Homo sapiens: one gene and its partner. The protein of the gene in region 1 purifies or fractionates together with the protein of each later gene. This does not show direct contact. Each region holds a gene or a part of one and is shown on either strand. Other genes may lie near its edges.

Region 1 (3,836 bases):
GCTTTAAAAATAGATTTCTCTGTTCCACACAATATCAATTCACTAGGACCAGACATATTGGGATGTGACCCAGTAATCTATTATTTGAAAGGTCTCCAAGTGAGTGCAATATGAAGAAGACTTAGGGACCACTGAAGAATTTTCTGCCACTAGGTCTAAAAATTATTCGAAATTATAAAAAGCATTTAGTGCTAAACATAAAAAAGTTTTACGGAGAAACTGCAACTGTAAATGTCGCTTTGGTAGAATAACTACTGTCAAAACTAACTGAACAAAAATGCAATTATTTGAATTTTCTTCTCTTCTAATGTCCTAATAACAAGTTACTCGTCTCTAAGATTTTAACCTCCTCACCAGATTCAGAACTTAGTCATTAACTAGATGTGATGTCAATAACCCTCAGTGAAATTTGGAGAAATCAAAATGTTACAAATGAAACCTGCTTTCTGTAGAAATGATGGGGAAGAGGTAACTAAAGAGATGTAAGAACACCCAAGTCAGTCACGGTCATGAGGGTAAAGCATGACTTAACATAGCTGAAGTTATCTAAACTTCTTGTACTAAAACGTCTCAGGCTAACAACATCAAAATCAAAGTAAAACTCAAAGGATAAAGATATTAAAAATTGAGGTTTTTTGAAACTGGTAATAAAGATTTCAGAAATAAGTCAGGATACTGTTAGATGATCTTGGTGTCAATTTCCCTTCAGTAAGGTGTCATTTAGCAAAGTACATTTGCAGATAATTATGCTGACAAGCTTTTAAGACGTTACTCATCTGGCATCTTGGAGACTCCCTCTCCAGATAGTAACTGCCATTTCCCTGGTAAAGGAGACTTGAACAAATCCAAGTATTGATGACTGATATCCTCTCTGTAGTTTGTCTCAGAGAAAGAATATCAGGGTATTTTCTTGAGAGTATTTCGGCACAAATCTTACAAGACCAATTATAGTAAAATGGTTGATGCTCACATAATCATCAGTTGAACTGACTTGGACAAAGCTGAACTCTCTGAATTTTATTATGTCTTGTCTAGAGAAACAAGCTTGCATAGGATGTAGCAAAGTTTGTTTCTACATTGCTAACTCTATCTTAGGGAAAAGGCCCTGGCCAGTTAGTCTCGTTTACTTTGTAGACATAATTCTTTTTTTATTTTTACGGTATATTATTCGGTTGGCATTCTTTTAAGTCAGTCTCCTTGGGCCCTGATGAAATGACTGCAAAATTGAGAATCAAACCCTGAAGTCTGCTGACCACACATAGGTACTAGGAACCTTTCAGGCTACTAAGTGGTAAATTAGGGTTCTCTATGACATCCTTTCACTGCAATTTGCAACATCAATAGAATCACACAATAATGTTATAAATGACACCAGAGACTCAATTAATTGTTAAATTTCATGCCATGAACGTATTTATGCACATATAATTGAGCAATGGGGAAATCTGCTCCAGTAAGAAAACTGCAAGAGACATGATTTTTGGCAGTGAGCTTTCTAAACAATAAATTACAATGGAAGGATTTTCACAGGTGAATAAGGAGTTAATAGGAACAAACAAAGCCCCCATTTGTGGATTAAAAAAGAGGAACACAATTTCATAAGATTGTTAAGGGTTTACAAGCCTTAAAAATGTCCAGTGGATTGAAGAGGCAAGAGACAAGTTCAAATATATAAGCACTGCAACAATTAGCAGGTGGTTGTCAATGTGTGATTCAAGAATCTGATCACAGAGATAAAACTCCTAAATTATTATAGCCCCAAGTGCCAAAGTACTAGAAAATAATCAAAGTAAAAGAAAAGGATCATCTATTTATGAAATCCATTCTTGTAAAACTGCTGAACTAAAAAAATTTTTGCAGTGAAGAAAGGTGAAGGTGTTTTTCTTAACTGATAAAAAGTACTTACTGGTTGTGTAAAAAATATTCGTAAAACCTGTCTGAAAGTTCTCAGATGCCCAAAAAATTCCAAAAGCTGAAAAGAGAAATAAGAGATCATTTATTAATTCAAACAGTCCTATTTGCTAAACCCAAAAACCAAAGCTGAAATCCCATAACATCAAATCCTCATATTAACTTAATGTTCATTATATGTCACATCTAATCATTTTGTGCTGAGTATTTTATTCAATTTATAGATTTGAGCCATCTCAGCAAGCTGAAGTACATTTAAACACCTAGAGTAACAATTTGATCAAGACAAATACAACTATGTCAAAGTCAAAGCAATTTTATCTGATTCACCTGTTTTTAACATTTAGATTTTAAAGTTTCATAAAGTGATTATTAGGTTGAGGGGTGCAGGCATGGAGAGAACAGGACAAGATACTCTACTAGTTTAAGAATTATGTGTATGACAATGTTACTGTTGAGGATGGGTATGTTCTATTCCACTTGTTTTCCCTACTTAGATAATCCACGCTATGTGAAGGTCGACTCCCCTTCCCTCCAGTGAAACCTGAGGACCGCTGGATTAAGATAGTCTATTTCCGTTTCTCCATTTCTAAACAAATATAGAACCTGCTATTACTTCAAACTAGTGATATGAAGATAAACTATAAAACTGTTAAAAGAGGAAAACAGTAGTATGTATCAGTAATCATTAATGTGAATCATGCAGTGACAAGATTTGTAATGTTACCTACTTTTAATATGAGGTAGAGTAAAGCCAGCAGTATCCCAAGACTCCATCTAGTTACGTTACCAAACTCCCCATAGCTTATAAGGTAGCGAAACCAAACTGGTATGGGAACAAAAGTTCGGTAGTATTGACACAATTCTTCTAAAAGCATATACCAGTAACCCTAAAAAATAAGAAGAAAACAAATAGAGCTACCCAAACTACTTAACTACATAGCACAAACAATATTAGACTGAGAACACTGAGTATATTATACAATAATATAAATAACTATAAAATTAATCTTCATAATGATTATGACTGAACCTCAAGCTGGTTCTCACATATTACAGTCACTGAGTGGCCTGCTTTGAAAGAATTTCTAGGTTGGACGCAGTGGCTCCCAGCACTTTGGGATGGGCAGATCACCTGAGGTCAGGAGTTCGAGACCAGCTGGCCAACATGGTGAAACCCCGTCTCTACTAAAAATACAAAAATTAACTGGGTGTGGTGGTGGGCACCTGTAATCCCAGCTACTCAGGAGGCTGAGGCAGGAGAACTGCCTGAACCCAGGAGGCGGAGGTTGCAGTGAGCCAAGATCACACCACTGCACTCCAGCCTGGGCAACAGAGCGAGAGACAATCTCAAAACAAAACAAAACCAAAAAAAAAGATACAATGAGAATGTTTTATGTATACTGCAAGTAAAACCTATGTGAGTATGTTTTTGCTGATTATAAGAATTTAAAAGTTTTTAGTGCATATGGGAAACCACTGAATAATTGTACATAGTCAACTGTCAATTGATAATGCCCTGGAGAACAGAAGTACACATCTAAATAGTTTCCCACATATGATGTGGGGACTGATTTTAAAATTATTCTGAAGCAAATATAATTCTGATTTTATCCAAATAGGTTAATAATCAGGTTCAAGTGCCTGAACAAATGGTTGCTAAGCTGAAATAATACAGATAATTAAGCTAGTTAGCAAACTGAAAAACTGCAAAAGGAGGATTCATTTAAACAAAGACTAAATAGCATTAATGTGATTCGATAACATCACTCCAATAAAGCATAAGTGAGTTTCTTACCTTAGATTTAAAAGGCATGATGAAAGAAGGCACCAATAAAATAAGGCATTTTAAGCCCATGAAAAAGAATTTCAGAATGAAGTCTGTAATTCCAACAATCCAAAATACTTCCCAGAAGCTCAAATGG
Region 2 (2,579 bases), on another chromosome or scaffold:
CTCATTCTTTCGTCAGCTGACTGACCAGAGACAGGCTCTTAGTTGCACCTCCCAGTTCAGCCTCCCTGCCTCCCAGTCATCCTCCAGCTGCTGTTTGGGTACCCTCTACCACTAGAGTACTAGTGCCCTACTGCCAACTGCCTCCAGTAGAATATCAGTTCCACAAAAGCAGGGATTTTTGTTTGCTTGTATCCCCAGTGTCTAGAACAGAGCCTGGCACATAGAACTTAGTAATCATTTGTTGACTGATTTCCTCCATGTCTCTCTGCAGCTCCAGAAACGCTTCATCCTGAATCTGCCAACCTTCAGTGTTCGAATCATTGACAAAAATGGCATCCATGACCTGGATAACATTTCCTTCCCCAAACAGGGCTCCTAACATCATGTCCTCCCTCCCACTTGCCAGGGAACTTTTTTTTGATGGGCTCCTTTATTTTTTTCTACTCTTTTCAGGCGCACTCTTGATAAATGGTTAATTCAGAATAAAGGTGACTATGGATATAATTGAGCCCTCTGGTCCAGGTCTCAGTTTACCTAATATTACCTCAGAAAGGATATGGAGGGAAGATGATCTTTTTGCCAGGTCTGACTTTTCTTCCTGCTCCGCCCTCCATTAACGCTCAGTACCCTTTAGCAGCTGACGGCCCCACGTTCTACTCCATGCTTGGCTTCCTTTCCAACTAGCTCTTTCATATATTTTACTTGCTAGTATCTCCATTCTCTCTAAAGTAGTGGTTCTTTTTGCCCTTAAACTTAAATTTTTAAATTAATTAACCTGAATTAATAATACATGCACTTAATGTAACATGCAAACAGTACAAAAACATGTAGTGAAAAATATTTCTTCCAGAGCTGGGTGTGGTGGCTCATACCTGTAATCCCAGCACTTTGGGAGGCCGAGGCGGGCGGATCACGAGGTCAAGAGAGCGAGACCATCCTGACCAACATGGTAAAACCCCGTCTCTACTAAAAATACAAAAATTAGCTGGGCGTGGTGGCACGCACCCCTAGTCCCAGCTACTGGGGAGGCTGAGACAGGAGAATCGGTCGAACCCGGGAGGCAGAGGTTGCAGTGAGCCTAGATCGCGCCACTGTACTCCAGCCTGGCAACAGAGTGAGACTCCGTCTCAAAAAAAGAAGGAAAAATGTTTCTTCCATCCCTATAATCCAGTCATCTGCTTCCTGCTTCCCTTCCTGGAGGAAACTTCAGCTACTAATTTCTTATGTTTTTTAAGAGATATTCTGTTACTGTGTAAAGTATACATACATACAGACACATGCCCCCTTTAAATTTTTTAGATTTATTTATTTATTTAGAGACAGGGTCTCACTCTAGCCCAGGCTGGAGTGCTGTGGCGTAATCTTGGCTCACTGCAACCTCCGCCTCCCGGGCCCAAGTGATCCTCCCATCTCAGCCTCCTGAGTAGCTAGGATTACAGGCGCACACCACCAATGCCCAGCTAGTTTTTGTGTTTTTCATAGAGACAGGGTCTCACCATGTCATTCAGGTTGGTCTTGAACTCCTGGGCTCAAGCAGTCTGCCTGCCTTGGCTTCCCAGTGCTGGGATTACAGGCGTGAGCCACCGTGCCCGGCTAAAAAGTATTTTTAAGTTCTGCATATTGCTTATTTCACTTAACACTATATTAGAGATTGTTTTATATCAATACATATAGATATGCTTATTCTTGTTGACAGTTGCATAATTTTCCATTAAATTGATGTATCATGGGCAGTTAACCAGTTACTCGTTTTACTCTTAGCATAACTTTAGGGAACAATGTGGATGTTTTGTGGTTAAAGCTATTAAAACAGTGGTTCTTGACCAGATGTGTGTTTCAGAATGTTCATCTCACATTTCCAGTTGCTACTGATGCTGCTGGTCTAGGAACCACATATCAAAACCATTTGGTCTCCGACTAAGATAAACCCTACTTTATCCAATTCTGTGCTCCTCTTAATATCATATACAGATAGGTTTTTGTTTTGTCTGTGATTAAATGTATCATCTAAGATACTACCTACTGATCATAACGTTCATATTAAAGTATTGGGTTAACATTAGATTTGGGTGTCTTATACACTATTTAATACGCCAATGATAAATGCCTTACACCATAAGAAGAAAGCTAATCATTGAGTAAATGGGAGAAAAGAGATGATTCACGTCACTACAGTTGATTCAACCTCCAACACCACCATGAATATGCATAGGTTTGAGCTTTTAGCTAGATTCCTGAGTGTAAGGCATCTATTTTAAAAGTGCCACAGGTTGGCCGGGTGCGGTGGCTCATGCCTGTAATCCCAGCACTTTGGCCGCCCGCCGAGGCGGGCGGATCACCTGAGGTCAGGAGTTCAAGACCAGCCTGGCCAACATGGTGAAACCCCATCTCTACTAAAAAAATATATAACAATTAGCCAGGCGTGGTGGCACACGCCTGTAAACCCAACTACTTGGGAGGCTGAGGCAGGAGAATTGCTTGAGCCCGGGAGAGGGAGGTTGCAGTGAGCCGAGATCATGCCACTGCACTCCAGCCTGGCTGACAGAGCAAGACTCTGTCTCAAAAAAAAAAAAAAAAAA

What was found.
Region 2: the proteins of RNFT1 (region 1) and PSMB2 purify together in Homo sapiens (affinity purification with mass spectrometry, with the first as the bait; one large-scale study listed by BioGRID). This does not show direct contact.

What each region holds. Positions count from the first base shown.
Region 1 is NC_000017.11:59,954,582-59,958,417, forward strand, and holds part of RNFT1 (E3 ubiquitin-protein ligase RNFT1), read right to left. Parts: coding exon 3,710-3,836; intron 2,802-3,709; coding exon 2,643-2,801; intron 1,973-2,642; coding exon 1,907-1,972; intron 1-1,906. UniProt on the Homo sapiens protein: E3 ubiquitin-protein ligase that acts in the endoplasmic reticulum (ER)-associated degradation (ERAD) pathway, which targets misfolded proteins that accumulate in the endoplasmic reticulum (ER) for ubiquitination and subsequent proteasome-mediated degradation.
Region 2 is NC_000001.11:35,601,067-35,603,645, reverse strand, and holds part of PSMB2 (proteasome subunit beta type-2), read left to right. Parts: intron 1-271; coding exon 272-379; 3' UTR 380-2,579. UniProt on the Homo sapiens protein: Non-catalytic component of the 20S core proteasome complex involved in the proteolytic degradation of most intracellular proteins. This complex plays numerous essential roles within the cell by associating with different regulatory particles.